Linked DNA regions of Homo sapiens. The protein of the gene in region 1 purifies or fractionates together with the protein of each later gene. This does not show direct contact. Each region holds a gene or a part of one and is shown in the gene's direction. Other genes may lie near its edges.

Evidence for each region.
Region 2: the proteins of CCBE1 (region 1) and C1QTNF1 purify together in Homo sapiens (co-immunoprecipitation; one large-scale study listed by IntAct). This does not show direct contact.
Region 3: the proteins of CCBE1 (region 1) and MMP2 purify together in Homo sapiens (co-immunoprecipitation; one large-scale study listed by IntAct). This does not show direct contact.
Region 4: the proteins of CCBE1 (region 1) and LAIR2 purify together in Homo sapiens (co-immunoprecipitation; one large-scale study listed by IntAct). This does not show direct contact.
Region 5: the proteins of CCBE1 (region 1) and FKBP15 purify together in Homo sapiens (affinity purification with mass spectrometry; one large-scale study listed by BioGRID and IntAct). This does not show direct contact.
Region 6: the proteins of CCBE1 (region 1) and GRAMD1B purify together in Homo sapiens (co-immunoprecipitation; one large-scale study listed by IntAct). This does not show direct contact.
Region 7: the proteins of CCBE1 (region 1) and SLC25A31 purify together in Homo sapiens (affinity purification with mass spectrometry; one large-scale study listed by BioGRID and IntAct). This does not show direct contact.

What each region holds. Positions count from the first base shown.
Region 1 is NC_000018.10:59,466,924-59,470,423, reverse strand, and holds part of CCBE1 (collagen and calcium-binding EGF domain-containing protein 1 precursor), read left to right. Parts: intron 1-816; coding exon 817-951; intron 952-3,500. UniProt on the Homo sapiens protein: Required for lymphangioblast budding and angiogenic sprouting from venous endothelium during embryogenesis.
Region 2 is NC_000017.11:79,041,169-79,044,668, forward strand, and holds part of C1QTNF1 (complement C1q tumor necrosis factor-related protein 1 isoform 1 precursor), read left to right. Parts: intron 1-2,506; coding exon of another isoform or gene 2,507-2,800; coding exon 2,801-2,955; intron 2,956-3,024; exon of another isoform or gene 3,025-3,500.
Region 3 is NC_000016.10:55,477,738-55,481,997, forward strand, and holds the start of MMP2 (72 kDa type IV collagenase isoform 1 preproprotein), read left to right. Parts: upstream 1-1,460; 5' UTR 1,461-1,742; coding exon 1,743-1,895; intron 1,896-2,260; exon of another isoform or gene 2,261-2,318; intron 2,319-2,795; exon of another isoform or gene 2,796-2,860; intron 2,861-3,819; exon of another isoform or gene 3,820-4,138; coding exon of another isoform or gene 4,139-4,141; intron 4,142-4,260.
Region 4 is NC_000019.10:54,505,831-54,508,508, forward strand, and holds part of LAIR2 (leukocyte-associated immunoglobulin-like receptor 2 isoform a precursor), read left to right. Parts: intron 1-2,060; coding exon 2,061-2,354; intron 2,355-2,678.
Region 5 is NC_000009.12:113,183,278-113,186,777, reverse strand, and holds part of FKBP15 (FK506-binding protein 15), read left to right. Parts: intron 1-414; coding exon 415-529; intron 530-1,973; coding exon 1,974-2,083; intron 2,084-2,378; coding exon 2,379-2,486; intron 2,487-2,932; coding exon 2,933-3,027; intron 3,028-3,500. UniProt on the Homo sapiens protein: May be involved in the cytoskeletal organization of neuronal growth cones. Seems to be inactive as a PPIase. Involved in the transport of early endosomes at the level of transition between microfilament-based and microtubule-based movement.
Region 6 is NC_000011.10:123,622,269-123,625,267, forward strand, and holds part of GRAMD1B (protein Aster-B), read left to right. Parts: intron 1-237; coding exon 238-327; 3' UTR 328-2,999. UniProt on the Homo sapiens protein: Cholesterol transporter that mediates non-vesicular transport of cholesterol from the plasma membrane (PM) to the endoplasmic reticulum (ER).
Region 7 is NC_000004.12:127,736,900-127,740,399, forward strand, and holds part of SLC25A31 (ADP/ATP translocase 4), read left to right. Parts: intron 1-3,500. UniProt on the Homo sapiens protein: ADP:ATP antiporter that mediates import of ADP into the mitochondrial matrix for ATP synthesis, and export of ATP out to fuel the cell.

The sequences.
Region 1 (3,500 bases):
GGCTGTGTCCCCACCCAAATCTCATCTTGAATTGTAGCTCCCTTAATTCCCTCGTGTCATGGGAGGGACCTGGTGGGATGTAATTGAATCATGGGGTGGGTCTTTCCCATGGTGTTCTCATGACAGTGAATAAGTCTCACGAGATCTGATGGGGAGTTCCCTTGCACACACACTCTTGCCTGATACCATGTAAGAAGCAGCTTTGCTCCTCATTCACCTTCAGCCATGATTGTGATGCCTCCCCAGCTATGTGGAACTGTGAGCCAGTTAAACCTCTTTCCTTTATAAATTACCCAGTCTCAGGTATGTCTGTATCAGCAGCATAAGACTAGACATGTATACACAAAGCCCCCTTCCTACCTCTCTGAGCCTGCCTGACTTCCAGCCCTTCCTCCCACATGATGACACCAGTGCCTGTCACCCCAGCTGGCCTTTGTTTAGTATTCTGCTGGGTGGAGTCACCTGCCTCTACAGCAGTTGATGAACAAGACAAAACAGCACCCCCAACCCCGAGGGAATCCGCAGAGGCTGGCCCTCTTAAGAGTCTTTTCTCTCTGGATAGTGACAAAGACCAAAGGATGACAAGGTGACCTAGGGGAAAAATCACGAGTGATGTGATGCCATGTAAGTTACCCATTGCAGTACTCTTAGAAGGTGACCCACAGCCCTAAAGAGTTCCTGTCCCTCCAAGTATATCTGTCCACACTTCACACGTGCCCTTGAGCAGAGCCCAGCCCAGAAAGTCCTTTCCAGGCCAGGGCCAGGTTACTCCGCCTCCTCCTGTAGTTGATGTGAGCTCTCACTTTGCTTTTTCAGATTACGACGTTTGTGCCGAGGCTCCCTGTGAACAGCAGTGCACGGACAACTTTGGCCGAGTGCTGTGTACTTGTTATCCGGGATACCGATATGACCGGGAGAGACACCGGAAGCGGGAGAAGCCATACTGTCTGGGTGTGTTGGGAATGTGCTTGTTTCCAGCTTCTGAACATGTGCCTTGTTCAGATGGTTCTGTCCTTGGTTGGACCCTTCAGTTCTCATACTTGTTGGATGGAGTTGTGTTTGATATTATCCTAGGGATAGCTTATCACTGCCCTTCATCACAATTACTAAAACCAATTAGGCCCAAGGAATTCTTCCGGGATTTGGTACCAGCAAGGTCCTAATTGGCAATGAGACATAAGAGCAGGAGAAGGGGAACATGCCCAAATATAAACTAGAATAATGTAAAACAGAGTATAAGTGGTCAGAAAAGTAAAAACGCAGACAGAACAAAACAAGAATAAACATTCTCTTAGAAGATGGTTGGGGAAAAAAGGAAGTAGCCATATGGCAGACAGGTTGGGAGGAAGTCAGAGGGAGCTGAAGCCAGCCACCTGGGCTGCAGCTGAGCAGAGCCTGCACCATCCACGGCACCAGCCTGTTTACTGCCACCCTCATGAACTGGCTATCCCAGCCGTGCACTCCTTGAGGTTCTAAGGCAGCTTTATGGCTCATTTTCCATTGGAACCATGTGTCTGAAAGTGTGGTCAGTTCATAACTAACCCAAGAAACATCTGGGGTCCTCGTTTGGGGAAAAAAAAAAAAAACCTGGCCTTTTCTCCACACCTAATGAATCACAACTCTGAGAGTGGGTCCAGACGTGCATATTTACACCAATGCCTCTAATGATTCCTAGGCATGGTGAGATTTAAGAATCAACTGGAGGATGAACTGCCAGAGACTAGCAGGTAGACCTACATGGAAGATAAACCAGCTGTCATGAGCATCCCTCTTTCTCTATCCTAGCAGGGGCTCTAGGGAGCACCATTTCTGAGAAGTTCTAACCGTAGGTCCTCTGGTTGCTCCCTGTCGGCATTTGGGAATGGTGCCCCACAATGCCAGACAATGGGATTGTGACTCCCAAGTGAATGGGGCAGGGATCTCTGGCCTCTCCTGCAGAGAAAGGTACAGGCCATTCCATGAGGCTCAGGTCCCAGGCACAAGGCTCTTACTTCACTTTATAGCAGCTACTGTACCCTATTCTTTATGCATTTATTTTTGAGACAGGGTCACACTCTGTTGCCCAGGCTGGAGTGCAGTGGCGTGATCATGGCTCACTGCAGCCTCAACCTCCCGTGCTCCTGTGATCCTCCCACCTGAGCCTCCTGAGTAGCTGGAGCTACAGGCATGCGCCACTACACCCAGCTAATTTTGTTCGTATTTTATAGAGATGGGATTTTACTATGTTGCTCAGTCTGGCCTGGAACTCCTGGGCTCAGCTTCCTGTCTTGGCCCCCCCAAAGCGCTGGGATTACAGGCATGAGCCACCGCACCCAGCCCCCTGTTCTTTTTGTTTGGGGGTTTGGGGACCAGCAGAACTTGGCTTCTACTAAGAGTTCTATTTCTATCTCTGATTTCAACTTCATCTCCTCTCTCTCTGGGCAGTACAGGCAGCATCACATGTAGGTTTAGGGCAGGGACACCTGGGGAAAGGCAGTGAGCCTGAGGAATTGCAGAGGAGGATGCAGCTGCAACATCCGGTCTACAGGTGACATAGTTGGTACTGCCGGGGAGCGTCCAGATGACCACCCTCCCCTCAGCGTACACAGGGACTGAGTCACTGGCAGCTTGTGCAGGGAGTGGCTGGGAAGTTGTTGCCATCCTCAAGTTCAGGGCTGGCCTGTGTCTACGCAGCACATGTGCACAGTCTGGGGCTGCATGCCACGGCTCCCACCCACTGCTACCCACTGTCTTCAACCAGTGAACAGGAAATGGAATTGGGCCTCCCACTGTCCTCGTGGTGGGAAACGTTTTTGTTTCCACCATGCGGCAGGGGAGCAAGTCCATGATGTGCATAGTTAACATGGGCTCTTCATGGGGACTTGTTTGATGGTCCCATGGCTCATTTCCACAGCTCATGAGGGGTCTGTCTGGGTTCTTGATGAGGCAGAAATTTCCTGGGGAAGACTCTTTCCATTAGACCCATTATGACTATTTTCTTTTATTAGAAGTATCTTTTCCCAGGTGCCATCATGGCTTTTAACTGGGAAGGAGCCATTCCTAAGTGACCTGTGGGGTCATCGTCATGCTGTTTGGAACCTATACCATAAAGGGAAACTTAAAAATCCCCAGCACAGTAGGGCACTCACAAAAAATCATCTCTATAATGTTTGCTTCTCTGAGTGTTGTCACTGGTGATCTCATTGTCATTTCTAAGCAGCCCTCTGAAGTGTTTAGGGCAGGCTTCATTGTTATTGTTCTGTAAGTGAGATCTCTGAAGGCTAGCAGTCTAAGCCACATGACTTGCGAGTGGCAGAGCCACAGCCAGGAACCCCATCACTGATCAGCCTGTAACAATGGCCACTTGGCCAAAAGTGCTGTTTTTATGGATGACCCACATTTCTAGCTCCCTACTTTATTCCAGGCTGCTCTGATCAAGGTCGGCCCAAGTGTCCTTCATTGTTATTAACAGAGAGGCAAAGCCCAATGTCATCTGTTGTATTAGAAGTGAATTCTCAGAA
Region 2 (3,500 bases), on another chromosome or scaffold:
TGTGGCCTAAGCAGCTCCTTGGTCATTGGGACGGTCTCTGGGCCCTGACGCATGGGAGGGACAGCTGGCTGGTAGGACACTTGGAGGTGGGGGCTCCAGCTAAGCCACTGCAGAGATGGGGCGTGGGCCATGCAAGGTGGTGAAGACTGGGTGTAGGTATGTGTGACAGGGGAGGAGAGAGGTTCGGGGGGGCCAGCCTTGCTCTCCTCACTGTCACCTCGGAGGCTCTATCGGGAGAGCCCTGGACTCCAGATCTTCCCCTGCAATGTTGACTTGGCGTGAGGGCTCTGCGGGGAGCCCTTCAGACTTCACTCAAGAGCCCACTAAAGTCCTGGGCCGTGGCTCACGCCTGGAATCCCAGCACCTCGGGAGGCCGAGGTGGGTGGATCACTTGAGGTCAGAAGTTCCAGACCAGCCTGGCCAACGTGGTGAAACCCCGTCTCTACTAAAAATACAAAAATTAGCTGGGCGTGGTGGCGCATGCTTGTAATCCCAGCTGCTTGGGAGGCTGAGGCAGGAGAATCACTTGAACCTAGGAGGCGGAGTGAGCCGAGATCACACTGCTGCACTCCAGCCTGGGTGACAGAGCAAGACTCCATCTCAAAAAAAAAAAAAAAAAGCCCGCTACAGACATCCCCCGCAGAGGCTCCAAAGCCCCCGAGCGACGGTGTGTGTGGAAGAAATTCCCGGCTTCCCAAGATGAGTAAGACGTCGCGGTCATCTTGGTGTGTAATATGGGCAGAGAAAGAAATCTGTCAGGATTTTAACTTTCCTTAGACATAAGAGGAGTTAGAGGAGAAAGAGTCTGGCCCAGGGCCTTTGGAGATGAGCCCTTGCTTTCACTGTTTGCCTCTCAAGAAAGAGCTGGAGTCCACGCCGGCCTGGCAGCCAGGAGTGAGGGACGCTTCTCACCCACCTTCTCACTGGGCGGCTGTGTGTTGAATGAGGTGTTCCCACGGGGCCTGCGACATTTCGAGTTTTACATTTTGGTGAACAAAGAGGGGTTAGAGTTGACCACAGTCGCTGTGCCCCTCGGTGGGGAGGTTTTCGGCCCACCTGAAACGGCTGGGCCTGCGACTCCTGATGCCAGATTCCTGGGCGAGGGGAGCAAGCCGCTCACAGGGTGGCAGGTGGGCGTTCGCCTAATGTGGGCCCAAGTGCCGCCCCTCGCGGGCTCCCTGGACTCCCCACCTCCGTGAGCACCCCTTTCTAGAAGGACTGTCCCAATACTGGATGGAGGGGGTCCTGCCCCAAGCTTTTGCCAAAAGCTCTGGGAGTGAGACGTGGGGTTGGCTTCCTGGAAGGATGACTGCTCTGTGGGGCTGGGCTTGGCACATCCCTAAAGTAGATGCCAAGGACACCTGCTGATGCGCCGCCTGGTGGCCAGAAAGCAGCTTGCAGCCACCTTCCTACCCACCTACCCACCGGTGAAGGACCTGGTCATTGAGCCAGCTTTGCTTTGAGTTAAGGGATGATGATCATTCAAAGCTTGCTTGGGATTTTTCTTACTGTCCTAAGAGGGGTGGTATACAATTGTCTGTGGGGCCAGCGGCTGATGGACTCTCCTTCCCGAGAGGCTGGGTGGGCAGAGACAGCACCTTGCTCAGCAACCCCTCAACACCAGCCTGACTGGCTGAGGCTCTGGGGGCAGAGTGTGTGCGCACATGTGAAGGTGTGTGTACATGTGAGCGCATGTGTGCATGAGTGGATGTGCATGCATGTGAATGTGTTGAGAGTATGCGGGCGTGCACGTGAGTGTGCATGTGATGTGGGTATATGTGTGCATGTTAATGTGTGCACGTGTGTTGAAAGTGTGCATGTGTGGATTGCATGTATGCGAATGTGCATGTGTGTGGATTGCATGTATATGAATGTGTGTGCATGTGTGGGTTGCATGTGTGTGTGGGTTGCATGTGTGTATGTGTGTGCATGTGTGCATGGATTGCATGTATGTGAATGTGTGTGCATGTTGGATTGCATGTGAGTGCATGTGATGGTATATGTGTGTGAGTGCATGTAAAAGTGTGCATGTGTGTGGATTGCATGTGTGTGTGAATCTGTGTGCATGTGATATGGGTATATGTATGCATGTGTGTGCATGTGTGTTGAGAGTGTGCATGTGATTTGGGTATGTGTGCATGTGAGTTGTGCATGTGTGTTGAGTGCATGTGAGCATGTGGATTGCATGTGTGAGTGCATGTGTGTGGACTGTGTATGTGCATGTATGTGCATGTGAGTGTGAGTGTATGTGTGTTGACTGTGTGCATGTGAGCGTGTGGATTCCATGTGTGTTAAGAGTGTGCATATGGGTGCGTGGATTGCATGAGTGTGCATGTGATGTGGGTATATGTATGCATGTGTGTAGGTTTCATTGTTGAGACTGTGCATGTGTATTGTGTGTACATGTGTGTGGATTACATGTGTGTGGATTGCATGTGTGTTGGGTGCATGTGAATGTGTGGGTTGCATGTGAGTGTATGTGACTGTGTGTGCATGTGTGGATTGCATGTGTGTTGAGTGTGTGCATGTGTGGGGGTTGCATGTATGTGAATGTGTGTGCATGTGCGTGTGTGCACGTGAGTGCGTCGTGAGTGCGTGTATGCATGCATGGGTGTGTGAGAGTGATTGTCCTCCCAGAAGCTGTGTAACTGCAGCATTTCCCAGTGGCGTGAGGCTGGGGAAGCACCTCCGATTTCCAGGCTGTTTCTCTCCCCAATTTTCAGGCTGTTTCTCTGTGCAGCTCCTTCCTAACTCGGTGCCTTCCCTGTGTGTTTCTTTCCCACCAGGGCCCGGCAGGAAGATGGGCTCCCGTGGACAGGGACTCTTGCTGGCGTACTGCCTGCTCCTTGCCTTTGCCTCTGGCCTGGTCCTGAGTCGTGTGCCCCATGTCCAGGGGGAACAGCAGGAGTGGGAGGGGACTGAGGAGCTGCCGTCGCCTCCGGACCATGCCGAGAGGTGAGGGGCCACGAGGGTGTAATAGCAGGAGCTCTGGCTCTGGCCAGGCTGAGCCTGGGCCTTGGGGCCCCTGGGGGAGCTAGTTCACTGTGAGATGTGAAGGCAAGAAAGCTGAAGCTGAGCCGTGGCCCTGCTGGAGGCTGGTCCTGCAGGACAGACGAGCGATTCCTCCTTTCAGTGGCTTGGGCACCTCACCTGAAACTGCGGACAGTGATCCAGCCTCACCACGAGCCTAAAGGAGTGGGGTCTGCAAGTGGCTTTGCAGCTGCCTCCTTAAGAGCAGACCAAGCTCCCAACCTGCCCTCCAGTTTGTCTTTCCATTCTCACTTTGTCCGCTGAGAATATCTGCTGGGGACCTAGGCACCACTTGGAGGCAGGGAGAAGTGGAGCATGGCCTTAGGAGAGATGCTGGACCAAGAGCTGGTGTCCATGGCCCACGCGTCTTATCACACTGCAGGACAGGAGAGGACAGCGGAGACTGGGTGGGCCAAGTGTCGGCTTCCCTTGAAAGGTTGTGAAGGACTCTGGATGGCCTTCGTGTCTAC
Region 3 (4,260 bases), on another chromosome or scaffold:
GGTCCTTACTGACCCCTCCAGCTCCATCCCCTCACCCTGTGCCCCACCTTTTTCAGATAGAAAAAACTTTCTTCTCCAGTGCCTCTTGCTGTTTTTCATCTCTGGGCCATTGTCAATGTTCCCTAAAACATTCCCCATATTCCCCACCCAGCACTCCACCTCTTTAGCTCTTCAGGTCTCAGCTCAGAAGTCACTTCTTCCAGGAAGCCTTCCTTGATTGTCTTTACTAGTTTAGGGGCTGAAGTCAGGCGTTCCCAACAGCCTGCTGGAGTTCCCCATCACAGCTTATCTCTCAACTGTCTTTCCTGAGAGAGGGAGAAGACATTCCTCAGAGACGGTTGTCACAGGGAGAACTTCAAAATTGGGATTCGACCTGAGAGGCCACATGGATTCTTGGCTTGGCGCAGGAAAGGATTCAAGAGTGAGTGGGGAATTCGTGGAACTGAGGGCTCCTCCCCTTTTTAGACCATATAGGGTAAACCTCCCCACATTGCCATGGCATTTATAAACTGCCATGGCACTGGTGGGTGCTTCCTTTAACATGCTAATGCATTATAATTAGCGTAAAATGAGCAGTGAGGATGACCAGAGGTCGCTTTCTTTGCCATCTTGGTTTTGGCTGGCTTCTTCACTGCATACTGTTTTATCAGTGGGGTCTTTGTGACCTCTATCTTATTAAACCAGTCTTGCCCAATTTCTATCTCATCCTGTGACCGAGAATGCGGACCCTCCTGGGAGTGCAGCCCAGCAGGTCTCAGCCTCATTTTACCCAGCCCCCTGTTCAAGATGGAGTCGCTCTGGTTCCAACGTCTCTAACGCGGGGCCCCTGACTGCTCTATTTCCCAAGGTGTATCTAGCATCTCGCACTATACGAGGCCAAGTTAAGGCTTACACATTTGCAGAAGGAAAGAGGTAAGGAAGCAACCTGGGACCTTCCACTGTCTCTGTTTCCATCTCTCTCTTTCCATCTCTGTTCATCCCAGAATCTCTCTGTCCCTATCCCTAAATATCGAAAATTTCTGTCTCTGACCATCTATCATTGTGGCTGATCATCTGTTTCTGACCATTCCTTCCCGTTCCTGACCCCAGGGAGTGCAGGGTGTCCTAGCCAAGCCGGCGTCCCTCCTAGTAGTACCGCTGCTCTCTAACCTCAGGACGTCAAGGGCCTAGAGCGACAGATGTTTCCCAGCAGGGGGTTCTGAGGCTGTGCGCCCAGATCGCGAGAGAGGCAAGTGGGGTGACGAGGTCGTGCACTGAGGGTGGACGTAGAGGCCAGGAGTAGCAGGCGGCCGGGGAAAAGAGGTGGAGAAAGGAAAAAAGAGGAGAAAAGTGGAGGAGGGCGAGTAGGGGGGTGGGGCAGAGAGGGGCGGGCCCGAGTGCGCCCCCCGCCCCCAGCCCCGCTCTGCCAGCTCCCTCCCAGCCCAGCCGGCTACATCTGGCGGCTGCCCTCCCTTGTTTCCGCTGCATCCAGACTTCCTCAGGCGGTGGCTGGAGGCTGCGCATCTGGGGCTTTAAACATACAAAGGGATTGCCAGGACCTGCGGCGGCGGCGGCGGCGGCGGGGGCTGGGGCGCGGGGGCCGGACCATGAGCCGCTGAGCCGGGCAAACCCCAGGCCACCGAGCCAGCGGACCCTCGGAGCGCAGCCCTGCGCCGCGGAGCAGGCTCCAACCAGGCGGCGAGGCGGCCACACGCACCGAGCCAGCGACCCCCGGGCGACGCGCGGGGCCAGGGAGCGCTACGATGGAGGCGCTAATGGCCCGGGGCGCGCTCACGGGTCCCCTGAGGGCGCTCTGTCTCCTGGGCTGCCTGCTGAGCCACGCCGCCGCCGCGCCGTCGCCCATCATCAAGTTCCCCGGCGATGTCGCCCCCAAAACGGACAAAGAGTTGGCAGTGGTGAGTTGCTGCGCTGGCCTCAAGGAACCACGTTTAGACAAACTTCGGAGGCAAAGGATGGGGGTGTCTCTCCCCCTGCCCTCGGCGGTGGGCACACAGCGTGGGGGAGGGGCTTCGGTAAACAGCTTGGGGGGTCTTTGGCAAGCTATTGGAGTGATCTCTTGCAAACGGTGGGGGATCTTTTGTAAGCAAAGAAAACCTTTGATAAACAATTTGGCAACCTTCAGCATACAGCAGTGGGGCGAAAAACAAGCCAGAGAGTGGGAGAGGGGTGACCTGGCAAACTACTGGAAAGGGACTCTTATGTAAATAGCGGGGACATCCTCTAGTATCTGGGACATTTGGCGGGGGGGGGGGGCGGTCTTTGTAAACAACTTTTGGACACATCTGGGCAGTTGCTAAGGGCTCTTGCCAAGCGTCTAGGTAAGCCTTTGGCAAACAGCTACAGGGGTCGTTTTTGCTAATGTAGGACTTTGGGAACGGTGCTCTGGCACACAATTTGGGTAAACTTATGCGCGCATAAGGATGGGAGGGAGCTTGGTCAAAGCGGGGCTTGGCAAATTTCTAGGAACCTTCGGCACAGATCCGGAGAGGGACCTTTAAACAAACAGCTCGAGGGGGCCATTTGGGAAGTGATTGGGGCAGGAGGGAAGCAGAGAGCGCATCTTTTTTCTCCTGGCTTAATGGACAAATTGGTCAAGGGCTGGGCCTCGGAAAGTTTCCTCGAACTTCTCCAAAGGGTCGGAGAAAAGAAGGAGAGAGCTGGCCCGGCAGGAGGGAGGAGGAGTGGGGCAGGCGCTGGAGGGCCCGGCGCGTGGGGCGGGGGCGGACTGCGCTCCGCTCGGGTCGGAGAGCGGCCAGAGAGCCCTCCTTCCTGGCTGGGCTCCCAAACCGCGGTTCAGATGTTGTCTTGTGAGCGTGCGCGCGCCTGGCTGGAGGGGCACTGAGCCTGGCCGCAGTGTTGCGTAAGTAGGGCCTGAGGAGAGAGGCAGGCCAGGGACCCATCAAGATGTCCTTTCCAGTCCAGGGGATATCTGCTCCCTTGTTGCTTCAGCCACCCTGCCCTCCAGCCTCCCCCTCAACCTGTCCGGGAGAAGACGCCCATGCCCTCTGGTCACCCTAGGAACTCCTTCAGGAGGTGACAACTACCCTCTCCCAACTCTCACCCTTCCAAACAGCTAGGTCTCAGCCCCCTCTGGATAGATGGGTTGGGAAACCTCCATACATTTTTAGAGGGCTACTTTTTTCAAGGATCTGGAGCTGGCTGGCATAATGATGTGGCTGTTGGGTGGGGGTGAGAGTGGAGCTTTGGGACAATGACAAAGCTACTTGGTTTCCTACACCTTTTCCAGCCAATGGGTCACAGGATGAACCCCTAAATTGGGGTTCAGCCTGGGGGCCACATGGGTTCTTGGCTTGCACAGGAAGGAATTCAAGAGCGAGCCAACAGAGTAAAGTGAAAACAAATTTATTAAGAAGGTAAAGGAATAAAAGGGTGATTATTCCATAGACAGAGCAGGGAATGGGCTGCTGGACTGAGTATACATATGGTTATTTCTTGATTATATGCTAAACAAGGGGTGGATTATTTAAGAGTTTTCCAGAAAAAGGGTGGGGAGTTCCTGGAACCGAGGGTTTCTCTCCCTTTTAGACCATATAGGGTAACTTCTCAATGTTGCTATGGCATTTATAAACTGTCACAGCGCTGGTGGGAGTGTCTAATGTATTTAACATGCTAATACATTATAATTAGCATATAATGAGCAGTGAGGACGACTAGAGGTCACTTTCATTGCAGTCTTGGTTTGGGTGGGCTTTCTCCAGCTTCTTTACTGCATCCTGTTTTATCATAGGGGTCTTTGTGACCCGAACTGTATATGGTGAAATCAGTCCTACCAACCTCCTGTCTCATTCTGTGACTAAGAATGCATGCCTGCCCTCCTGGGAATGAAGCACAGCAGGTCTCAGCCTCATCTTACCCAGCCCCCCACTCAAGATGGAGGTGCCTGGTTTGAACACCTCTGACAAATGGAAGTCTGTGTTGTCCAGAGGCAATGCAGTGGGGGCTTAAGAAGATAACTCTGGACTTAGACCGCTTGGCTTCAAATCAAAGAGTGCATGAACCAACCAGCTGGCCTAGTGATGATGTTAGGCAAGTGACTTCTCAGTTTCTTCATCTGCAAACTGGGAAATTTCCTATCTCAGGGTTAAAAGAGAGGTAATCTTAGGTGCTTACCTAGCACATGGTAAGTACTCAATAAGCACTAGCCATTATTCTATTATATTATTATTATTGTTATGTCCTCCATTTCCCCTTTCCTAACTACTTCCAACAAGGCTAGGACCGTTGTCAGAAGATCTCCTG
Region 4 (2,678 bases), on another chromosome or scaffold:
TTTTTTTTGAGATGGTGTTTCATTCTTGTTGCCCAGGCTGGAGTGCAATGGCTCGGTCTTGGCTTACTGCAACCTCTGCCTCCCTGGTTGAAGCAATTCTCCCTGCCTCAACCTCCCAGGTAGCTAGGATTACAGGTGCCTGCCACCATGCCTGGCTGATGTTTTTGTATTTTTAGTAGAGACGGGGATTCACCATGTTGATCAGGCTGGTCTCGAACTCCTGACCTCAGGTGAGCCGCCCACCTCGGCCTCCCAAAGTACTGGGATTACAGGTGTGAGACACCGCGCCTGGTCTGATTTTTAAAAGTTAATTAATTCAGTTTAAAATTGACCGATGAAAATTGCATGTATTTGTCATGTCCAATATGACGTTGTGGACTCTGCACACAGCGAGGAATGGCTACATCGAGCTAGGCAACGTAGGCATTCCTCCTGTGCGAATCATTTTTTTGTGGTGAGAACGCTTAGAATCACCTGGATTAGCAATGTCCAATAATGTAATACATTGTTATTAACTGTAGTCACCGTGTTGTACATGATGATTCTTGAATTGATTTCTCCTCTCTAACTAAAACCTTGTTTCCTTTGAGGAATTTTCCCACTTTGAGTGCCCTGGTGTCCCCTGTCTGCTCAGCTCAGGGAGTTTCTACTCCTCCCTCAGCTCTCAGCTCAGAGAGAGCTTCCCCTGACTTTGCAGAGGAGGTCAGCTCCACCGCCCACCTGTCCCCTAGATCCCTGCACACTTACCCACAGGAAACTTATTGCAGTTCGCAGCTGCAGATTTGGACAATTCTTCGATCAATATCTGTCCTCCCTTCTAGACGTCCACCTCCAAAGGGCAGGCATCCTGTATGTGTTTCTCACATTTGCGGAATTAGCAGCTCATGAAAAGCGTCTTTAAACAGATTGATAAGTAACTGAGATATGGTTAAAAGAAAGAAAAATGAACAAATGGGTGGGTTTGGGGAGATGCTGGTCAAAGGATAGAAAATTTCGTCTAGACAGGGAGAGTAAGTTCAGGATTGTGTAACATAATGACTAGAGTTAATCACAATATATCATACGCTTGAAAATCGCTAAGAGGGCAGATTTTAAATGTTCTCACCACAACAATTAACTACGCAAAGTGAGGTTATATTAATTAGCTTGATTCAGCGATTCCACAGTGTATACCTGTATCAAAACATCATGTTGTACACCTTAAATACATGCAGTTTTAATTTGTCAATAATAAGGAATGAATGAAGACGGGACGAGTGAATTGAAGCCCTGCCAGCTCTCTGCCCCGCTCAGGGATTTTGCTAATTTTGACACAACCTTCCTGTTTCAGGGCGTCAAACCCGCCCTTCCTCCTCCACCCCAAGCCCAGTTGAGATAAATGGGGTTTTTCAAGAGCCTTAATAACAAGGAAATGCAAATTAAGCTGAGAAGAAAGTAGAAACTATAGAGGAAAACCCAGAGGTGGTGTCTCCACAGAGATCTGCATTAGCAATGGGGACCTGTCACGGGCTGGGCATCTGCTGTGAGCAGATCAGGGCTGGGGGCTTCACCCTCACCCCACCAGACCCTCAAAGGAGCCTGGCAACCCCCGTCCCACACTCAGTCCCACCCGGGGACCGGCCAGTGCCCTTCAGGCCCCAGCACGAGCCATCTCCAGAGCCCTCGCTTCCCTGTCCCTTGTCCTTCACGAATGACCCTGTCATCCCCATCGTGTGCCTCCCTCCCACCCTCTGTCCCTCTAGAAAGTGGCCCTGGGCTCTGCAGCAGGCATGAAGGGCTCCAGGCTGCTCCGACACTTCCCACGTGACCCTGAGCAAGGCCCAAGTTGTGAGCAAGTCTCAGGGTCCTCACTGTCAACTGGGAAAAAACTCTGCAGTGATGAGAATCACATGCACGTAGAAGGTGCAGGAGGCGTGGGAATGTTCTAAGGTTGGGCTGTGGTCGTGGCTGCATAACTCTATAAAATTGCTAAAATCCCTGAATTGTGATCCTAAAATGACGTGTGTGGCATGGTGACTTCCTACAGTGGACGCTGAGATCCTTCTTTGCTTCCCTCTTAGGGGCCCTTCCCAGACCCTCCATCTCGGCTGAGCCAGGCACTGTGATCTCCCCGGGGAGCCATGTGACTTTCATGTGCCGGGGCCCGGTTGGGGTTCAAACATTCCGCCTGGAGAGGGAGGATAGAGCCAAGTACAAAGATAGTTATAATGTGTTTCGACTTGGTCCATCTGAGTCAGAGGCCAGATTCCACATTGACTCAGTAAGTGAAGGAAATGCCGGGCTTTATCGCTGCCTCTATTATAAGCCCCCTGGATGGTCTGAGCACAGTGACTTCCTGGAGCTGCTGGTGAAAGGTGAGGACGTCACCTGGGCCCTGCCCCAGTCTCAGCTCGACCCTCGAGCTTGTCCCGAGGTCCCTGGTCCCTGTCCCGGCTGCTGTCCTCTCTCTGTGGCCACCGTTGCCCTCTTCCTGACCCCAAGCCCTCCCCTCCCCTTCTTCCTCTGCACACACCTCCCCTCTGCCCTCACACCTGCTTAGGTCCCTGGAGCCCTGATCTCCTCTGGACGCCACAGATGGCGTGGACACTCAGTCCCAGCATTGGGTTGGCTCAGAGCTGGCTCTGCTTGGCTGGGTGGGGAGTGGGTTCCCAGAGATTAGGGGGCAACCCCCCTACAAG
Region 5 (3,500 bases), on another chromosome or scaffold:
AGAGGCATCCTTGGAAATTGGCAGATTTGGTTTGGAATCTCAGTGAGCACTTCTTCTTTAAACTCAATGGAAGCTAAGCAGAGTTTATTAATCTAAAAACTTCTTAGACAATAGGCCTGATAATGGGGAATGAATCCCTGCTTAATTATCTCACCAGATGACTGGGTAGTGACCTAAGATACACTTTCTTCAGTTTCTGGGTAGGATTTTAGTGACTGGTTTCCCCTGGGATACATAGATAACTCTCCTGCTGCAGTCCTTACCAACTGCCAAACCCAGATCTCACCCATCTCTAGCTTCAGTAAGTTTGAGTCTCCTCCCAGCTCATCCACTTTATTCCACCAAAGAAAAATGTGAACAAAAAAGAAAGACATGAATGTTTTATCAACCAGTGGTAACTCGTCAGTTTCTCAGCCCTATGCAGGTATGCAAGCCTACGCTTATCCCCAGGCATCTGCCGTCACCTCCCAGCTGCAGCCCGTTCGGCCTTTGTACCCAGCACCGCTCTCTCAGCCTCCCCATTTCCAAGGTAGGGAGTAATTCCCTCAGTTTCTCATCTTCCGCTCTTGCTGTGCTTTCCCTCTTCTTGCTCCTCCTTCATTTTCACACCAACAGCTCTCTACTCATTGTTTCTTCTCTTTTTTAACAGCTTTGTTGAGATATAATATGTATTCCACACATTCATTCATTTTAAATGTGCAATTCAAAAGTGTTTTAGTAAATTTGCAGAGTTGTGCATTCATCACTACAATCCTATTTTAGAACATTTCCGTCATCCCCCAATGTTTCCTTGTGTCCACATTCTGTGTTTTTTTCCTTGGATTTTCTCCCCTGGCCCTTTTAATTCCTCTGTTAGAGTAGCTAGAGTTTAGAGAAAATAGTAAAAGAGCAAAACATTGGAGGAAATTGGGAGAAAGTTGAATACTATAGGTGTTTAGTATCTCTAATGAAAGCTACTCTGTTAACATTTTTAAATTATGAAAATAAGAGACTTTTATAAAAAAGTCAAGCAGTACAAAAGGGTGTAAAGTGAAGTTACTGTCCTTCCCCTCCATAAACCCCCTGACCTTGGGAAACTGTTGTTAACAGTTACTTGGGTAACTTTTCAGATATTTTGTATGCATGTACAAATGTGAGTATCTAATGTAAAAAAATCAAACCAAGATAAAGTGTAAACTGCTATGATGGAATCCTGCCTTGTTCTGCTATTAGTCTTCTGTTTAGTAATCAGCTTTGGTATTAGGACAGTGGTAGGAAGAAGCCAGTATGTCCTGCAACATAATTTGTGGTTCTGGACTGGTCAGGATTTCCTGAATGCAGCCTTTATCTGGAAGCTCTGCCCTTCTCCATCTGGGATACGCTTTTTCATCCATCAAAACTGTCATCTCCCTCTGTGAAGCCTTCCCTGACTATTCTCTGTCCCTCTTTCCTCTCTTCCCACAAACACAACTGTGTACGCGTGTCACCAAAGAGTTAATCGTGCTTTTCTCTGTGCTACTTTTATACCTAGTATATGGTCCATTGTTTTGCACTTAATACACTCTCTTGTAATGATTTGTTTACATGTCAGTCTCCCAGCCAGACTGAGAGCTCACCAAGGGCAGAAGCCGTGTTTTGTTTACTGCTGTATTCCTGGTACCTGGTACAATGCTTGGCATACAGTTGGATGAACGGGAAAGTAATCTGAGCTGCCGGTGCTGTGGCAGTGCAAAGTGGGCATATTTGTGCCCTTGGACCAGATGTAGCCCTTGATGCATTTTGCAGGAACACGGCTTAGTTATTGTTTACTTTGAAGCCCTTTTGCCTCTACTCTCTCCCATATATCTTCTCCTGACAGGGTGAAGTCACCTATAGCATTTCCTAGTGTATGGAAGTATTAATTTCTTTCTTTACTGGAAGAGCTACTAGCTTTTCTTCATACAGTTTCCTCTGCTCCAGTTTCATAAGTTTCTTTTTGGCTTGTATCTGTTTAGGATCAGGTGATATGGCTTCATTTCTCATGACTGAAGCCCGGCAACATAACACTGAAATTCGAATGGCAGTCAGCAAAGTGGCTGATAAAATGGATCATCTCATGACTAAGGTGACTGAGTCAGAGTTGGGGTGATGTTGAAAGTGGGGATGTAAACAGGGAGCAGCCAGAACTGTAGGTAAACTCTTCTTTGATTTCCTGCATTGGTAGTAGTGAGAGGTTATTTCCCTACAAGGATAGTTATAATTATGTTGGGATCCAGTTAGTAGGAGAAAACTCTAACTTAACAGTTAGAGATTGTCCCAGGAACTCATTAACCCCCTTAACAACAGGGTCAAATCTTGGGTAAATTGTATTTCTTCATTTTATAATTTCTCACAAGGTCTTTCTGGTATCCCTTTTGTAGGTTGAAGAGTTACAGAAACATAGTGCTGGCAATTCCATGCTTATTCCTAGCATGTCAGTTACAATGGAAACAAGCATGATTATGAGCAACATCCAGCGAATCATTCAGGTGAGGGTGATTAAGAACATACCACTCAGGCTGAAGGTCTTACCCATCCTCTCTTCTCAGAGGTACTACTCTTTAACACCTCCACCCCAGAAATAGCCTGTGATAAACGCTACACTGGGTTAGACAATTCTAGAAAATCCATTATGGCTTAATTCTGTCCAAGTGACTTATCACTATATATTCTGAAGGAAACATTGCTTTTTTGACCATACTTCAGAATTTCACTTCTTTTTTTAGCCATTTATTCACTCAATCCATTGGACCTAGTGATTTGTATCCATCAGGTGTAATCTGATGTGTTGTTTTAACATACATGTGGACATAAGTTCTAGTGTTTTGTCTCAAAACATGTTAACAATGTCACCTGTCAGTTCAAGTTGATTCTCTTCTATCTGGCACTTTTCTCCCAAGACACTTAAATTGTACATCATATATTTTGAAATTAGGAAAATGAAAGATTGAAGCAAGAGATCCTTGAAAAGAGCAATCGGATAGAAGAACAGAATGACAAGATTAGTGAACTAATTGAACGAAATCAGAGGTAATGACAGGTACGGGGCCTGGCTAGGATGGACAAAAGGGTTTATTATGTATATGCCCAGCTTAAGTACACGTATTTGTTTAGGGCAGTACGTATGTATTTCTGCCATTTCTGTTTCCTGCCTGTCATGTGAATTATTGCCTGTTTTCTGAGAGGCATTGCAGTAGAAGGAGCTTAGTAGGCTGTGATGTAGGGCAGACCTGTGTTTGATTCCTGCTCTGACCCTCATTCATTCTGTGGCTCTGGGCATGTTATTTATTCCTGCTGGCCCTAGTTTCTTTATCTTTAAAACTGGTATTATTACTTACAGAACTCTGGTGTCAACTCTTCTCTCTTCTGTGTGGGCTAACTCTATTTTATCCATCAGAACTCAGCCAAAACTTCACTGATTCCCATATAAGACCTAAGGATTTTGTACTTTTTGTAGATACTTCTGAAGATTTGGAGGGGTGGGTGGGGAGGATGAGTGGAAC
Region 6 (2,999 bases), on another chromosome or scaffold:
CACCTCTGCCTCCCAAAGTGCTGGGATTACAGGTGTGCGTCACTGCACCCAGCCTGACTGTCCCCTTTCTGTTTGAAACAGTGTTGAGAACCACCCTTGCTTTAGGTGCCCGACTCTTTTCAGCCCCATGGCGTGGTTGGAGGCCTGCCCTAGGCGGGTGTGGGGAGAGGGCTGCTCGGTGGAGAATCCCACTAAAAGCGCAGACCCAGGCCTGGGGTGGGGTTTTCTGTCTTGCAGATGAAGGACTCGCTCATCAACCTTCAGAACGGCATCAGGTCCCGCGACTACACGTCGGAAAGTGAAGAAAAGAGGAATCGCTATCATTGACAAGGCAGGAACAGGGTGGCTGCAAGAGGCCTGTGCAATACATGTACATAGACCATATAAATATATATATATAAATATATATATATACAGAATATAAATATATATATTATATACAGATTTTAAAAAAGAGATAATGCCTATGTACCAGGGAGAAGGAGCGGGCCCTCCCGCGCCCTGTGCTGGCCGGAGCAGCGTTTTCTTATGGTGGAGCAGCTGAGGAGGGCAGGAACCGCCTCTCAGCACCGACCTCCCCTGATCTCCCTCCTCCCACCCTCTGTTCCCCACCCCTTCCCTTGCTGGCCATTCTTGGCTTTTAGAAGGGAAATGTTGAGCCAAAGTTATGCCTGCGAAGACCCTAAGGTCTCAAAAAGAAGTCTTAAGACGGCATTGCTTAAGGTGCTTCATTCCCTAATCCCCTTTTGATTTGTTTCCAAAATAAAAGAGAATCTTTTCTTCCCTACCCCAGGCTTCCCCAGGCATTCTCTTGGGAACACAGAAGCATCAAGGGAGCCCAGTCTAAACTCCTAGGGTTGGCCGCCCACTTGATCCAGACCGTACTGAGTGTCAGATGGAGAGGATGCTTGGAAAGCTAGGAAGGCTGCATTGTGTGGTGGCAGGCTCCCGAGACTCGTGTTCTGAAGGATACTCTCCTCCATCACCCCTGCACCTTCCTCCGACCTGTGTAGGGTGTGGACCCAGTAAGGGCTGGGAATTTCTTACTTTCCCACCCGCTTTCTCTCTGGTCTTCTCCCAGGCTGGATCTGGGCGAAGTGTCACTTTTTAGTGCCTAAAGTCCTATTGTTTCTCTGTGCCCTAAGAGCACATTGTTTATTAGCCAGGGTGGAGCGTTTTCGACCTTATTAAACCTCTTTTAGTGCTTCTAAGCAAGTCAGGTCTGTGGCTCTGAGGCCTTCACTTAGAGCTGTCAGTGTGATTTCCAGGATGAGTCAGGGTGTGCTGGGCCCTCCAGGATTTGAGAGAGGGAGAGAAGGCCCTTGCCACGTCCGGGGTGCAGGGTCTACCCACAGAACACTGTGAGTGGTGAGCACCAAGATGGGTTGCCAGCCTCATTTGCTCTTTGAACGAACCAACATTAGCCAGTGGAGACGACTGTCTGAGACAGTTTGCACATAGAAAAAGCATCTGAGCCACTGGAGGGAAGGATTTGGCAAAGGTGCATGTGTTTGGGCAGGAAAAGGCCAAGTGAAATCTATGCCCTACGGGAGCCATTCCCAATCCTGAGTTTCTCAGACTTGGCAATGGGGGTTCTGGCGGGGGTTGGAGTACAAATCCTGCTCTGGTCTCTGGCCCCACAGAGGTGTAAGATCATTAAGAAGTAGAAGGCACTAGCTTCAAAGAGTGAGACATTCAGGGCCTTTTCAGCATTGGCCCACTAGCACCATGCATTTATCTGAATTCACGGGGCCCTCTGGGCACATTCATCATCCCTCATACACTAACTACTGTTTCTTCATGTAATGACCAAAAGAGTCCCACCAGCTCCAGGCAGAGCTTGTGGAGATTCATGAAAGAGTCATAGCCAGTTTGGCATGCAGAGGTCTTCAGTCTTGCTTATTCTTCTCCTGGGCTTCTTGACACAGGGGCAGAAGAAACCCCAGATGTCCCAGATGTCCCAGAACATCAGCCCAAAAGACAGAAGATTTTATCACTCATCTACCCCAAAGATAAAGTTGTATTTTTTTCTTAGAATGGCCTTTAATTCCCTGTGGCAATTACAGTTTTTGACTTTTCCATGTGAGAATAAGGCCTTGGTATTTCCCTAAGGGCAGGATCAGAAAACAGGAAGGTCCATGCCCAGGTGATCCTCCAAGGGAGGAGGGTGAGGAGGCTCCAGGGCATGAGCTAGAGTGGATATTCCTCCCCTAGAAGAGGAGATGGGAGGAAATGCAGTTTCATGTAATCCCTGTGAAGAGTGCCTATGCCCACAGCCCAGTGGGTCCTTGTTCAGTTCTTGTCCAGGCCTTTGGGTGAGGGACACTGGTAGGGATCAAGGCTCATGGGCTCTGAGCCAAAGAAGGAGGCATGGTGCAGACTGCTGGAAATCTCCCCCTTGGCACAGCCAGAAGCCAAAACTATTCCCAGAAAGTTTTGAATGCAAAACTTGTAGATTCCTGAATTTATTCCATACATAATTATTTCCTTAAGTTATTTAATTATTAAAGGTGCCACGGTGGGACCTTTGGGATGACTTAAAAAGGGTTCTTTGTTGGGAGTCAAGTGACAGAGCAGACCTGGCCGCAGGGAGTTGTTCTGCTTCTGCTTTACCTCTCAGGACCATTCCCAGGAGGAAAAGGTGGCAGAGAGGGCAGTACTGAGTATGTCAGAAGAGCCCTCCTGGTTTTTTAGCGATTTGAACCCACTAGACAATGTGTGCACATAGGGAATGTCCTTTAAGAATCATGGATCTCTTGTAGGCTCTCTGTGTTCCAATAATTTTTTGACTATCATACCAGGAAAAAACCAACAACTCTATTCATTCCCAAACAAAATCTCTTCCCCCTTAGTCAATAGCTTGCGAAAGACATCTTAACTCACCCTTGCAGATAAGTCTTGGAGTGAAACAAATAAATAGCATTGTATTCCTGGCCATTTGCCTGGCTAGTTGCTGTCTACAAGGGAGCATCAAAACATCACTACTTCTTATGTAACTT
Region 7 (3,500 bases), on another chromosome or scaffold:
AGATTTTTGTAATCTATCCAAGGGAACTGGAACCTATGTAGTGCATAGCATATCTAAGTAGAGTTGAATTAAAACGCTGAAACCTGACTCCCAAAAATAGTTAGAAAATGCATTCAGAATTTTACTTAGGGGCTCCTCCTGTGTTATACTCTTAGCAGGGGCATTGGAGTTTCTAACAGCAAGGTACAGCAGAGGCAAAGAAGGAAATAAGAATAAGATGTTTTAGTGTGATCTATGGGAAAAGAGGTTAAAACAAGAGTTCTTAACCTGACACCTGGAGCTTCAGGGAATTCAAGAATTCTGTGACATCTATGTAAAACTATTTTATGTATGTGAGATTTTATATTTTTTCTGACCTAACCCATTAAGAATTGCCTGCTATACTACTTTAACAGTTTTCCTGTTATACTTCTAGGGATTTGTTTGTAAATTTTCATTGAGATATTGACATTTCTTTTGATGCAAATGGTTTTATTCGTGCAAATACAATTTTTCTCAAAGGAACACATTCTTCAGCCAACACTAGCAAACCTCTTTAGTCATAAATCTGACACTCTGTCATCATGGTCTCATGTTAGTTTCCAGATGTCTTTATCATTAAAACCTTCTGTTTATGTTCAGTACGCTAATCAAAGTTACAAACCTTTGTACTACTCTTTTTTTTTTTTTCTTTTAGATAGGGTCCTGCTCCATCGCCCAGGCTGGACTGCAGGGCACAATCGTGACTTAACTGCAGCCTGGAGTTTTGGTGTTCAAGAACTCCCACCTCAGCCTCCTCAGTAGCAGGGAGCACAGGCACATGCCACCATGGCAGCTAAGTTTGTTTGGGGTTTGTTTTTTTTAGAGATAGGGTCTCACTGTGTTACCCAGGCTGGTCTCAAACTTCTGGCCTCAAGCAGTCATCCATTTTCAGCCTTCCAAGCCATTGGGATTACAGGCATGAGCCACCATGCCTGGCTTGTGCTATTATGTATTATACTCATTTTTTATATACTCAGCAATATAATCATAATTACAGAATTATAACTAATAACTCCTAGTCTGAAACCCATAATATCTCATACCAGTCAGCTGTATTAGCCATTTCCAAAGTGGCCATTAATAGTTAAAAAGCCATGTGTAAAATAGCCTTCAAAAACCAGCTTATTAGTTTTTTCCTTTAAACAGCTGATTTCAATTTTCTTTTTAGGAGAGGGTCTCACTCTGTTCCCCAGGCTGGAGTGTGGTGGCACCATCACAGCTCACTGCAGCCTTGGCCTCCCAGAGTCAAGCGATTCCCACTCCGGATTCAAGCAATTCTCATTCCTCAGCCTCCTGAGTAGCTGAGACTACAGACGTGCACCACCACACCCAGCTAATTTTTTGTATTTCAGTAGAGATGGGCTTCCACCATGTTGCCCAGGCTGGTCTCAAATTAAGCTCAGGCAATCTACCTGGCTCAGCCTCCCAAAGTGCTAGGATTATAGATGTGAGCCACCACGCCTGGCCCAAATTGTTTAATTTCCATATAATTTGTGCTTTTGAGAGATCTTTTTGATATTGACTTCTGTTTTTATTCTGTTGTGGTCAGAGTATGGTTGATATAATTTCTATTTTTTTGTATTTATGGAGACTTGCTTTATGGCTTAGCATGTGGTCAATCTTGGAGTATGTTCCATGTGTAGAAGAGAAGAATGTAATTCTCTGGTTGTTGGGTGGAGTATTCTATAGATGTCTATTAGGTTCGAATGGTCAAGTGTGGAATTTAAGTCTAGAATTTCTATGTTCATTTTCTGCCTTGATGGTCTAAAGCTGTTGGTGGGGTGTTGAAGTCCCCCACTCTTATTGTGTGACTGGCTAAGTCTTTTTGTAAGTGTAGAAGTACTTGTTTTATAAATCTGGGTGGTCCAAATGTTGGGTATGTATATATTTAGGATAGTTAAATCTTCTTGTTGAATTGAACCCTTTTTCATTATGTGATGCACATCTTTGTCCTTTTTATTTTTGCTGGTTTAAACTCTGTTATATCTCATATAAGAATAATGACCCCTGCTCTTTTTTGTTTTTTATTTGCATGATCCTTTTCCAACCCTTTACTTTGAGCCTGTGGGTGTCATTACATATGAGATTGGTCTCTTAAAGACAGCAGACAGATGCATCTTGTTTTTTATCCAACTTGTCACTCTGTCTTTTAAACGGGGTGGTTAGAGGTTTACACTGAAGGTTAATATTTGATATATGAGGTTTTGATCATATTGTGAATTTGTTAGCTGGTTTCTTCATATTTTATATTGTGTGGTTGCTTTGTAGGATCTCTTGGCTATGTTAACAGTGTTTTTGTGGTAGCAGGTATTTTTCTTTCATTTCCATGTGTAGAGCTCCCTTAAGGATTGCTTGTCACCTGGTCTGGTGGTAACTAAATTCTCTTAGCACTTGCTTGCCTGGAAAAGATTTTATCTCTTCTTCATGTATAAAATTTAGTTTGGTGTGATATGAAATTCTTGGTTTGAATTTTTCTTTAAGAATGCTGAAAATAGGCCCCCAATCTCTCCTGGCTTGTAGTGTTTCTGCTGAGAAGGCTACTGTTAGCTTGATGGGTTTCTCTTTGTACATGATCTGACCTTTTCCTTTAGCTCTCTTTAAGATTTTTTCTTTAGTGTTGACCTTGGACATTCTGGTGACTATATGCCTTGGTGATTGATGTTCATTTTGTACAGTATCTCACAGGTGTTCTCTGGATTTCTTGTATCTGGACAAAGATTAGGGAAATTTTCTTGAATTATTTCCTCAAATATGTTTTTTGGGTTGTTTACTTTTTCTGTTTCAGGAATGCCAGTAACTTGTAGGTTTGGCTGCTTTACATAATCTTATATTTCTCAAAGACTTTGTTCATTTATTAAAATTCTTTTTTCTGTATTTTTGTCTAACTGGGTTAAAGGACCAGTCTTCAAGCTCTGCATTTCTTTCTTCTGCTTGGTCCAGTCAATTGATAATTTTTTTAATTGTATTTTGAAATTTCTTAAGTAAGCTTTTCAATTCCATAAGATCTCATTGATTTCTTTTGAAGATGTTTATCTCTTCTTTCATTTCCCAGATTACTCTAGAAGTTTGTGTCTATTTTCAACCTTCTTTTAGATCTTATTGAGCTTCCTTGCAATTCATGCTTTGAATTCTTAGTCATTTCTGAGTTTCCATTTTGGCTAGGAACCATTGCTTGACCGCTAGTGTGATCCTTTGGTGTTGTTATTACATTCACATTTTTTGTGGTGCCTGATTTCTTGCCCTATTCCTTCTCAACTGGAGACACTAGTGCTTCCAATTTTTGTAGTCATTTTAATGCAGGTAGGATTTTTTTTCTTTTTCTATGTAACATTATTGGGGTTTTTTCTTTTCTCTTTCCCCCTCCTCCCTTGGGGGTGTAACTGTAGACAGTGTTGGGTAGGGGCTTTTGACTTTGCTCTATAACCCTTGGGGGTGTAACTGTAGACAATGTTGGACAGGGGCTTTTGACTTTGCTTCTA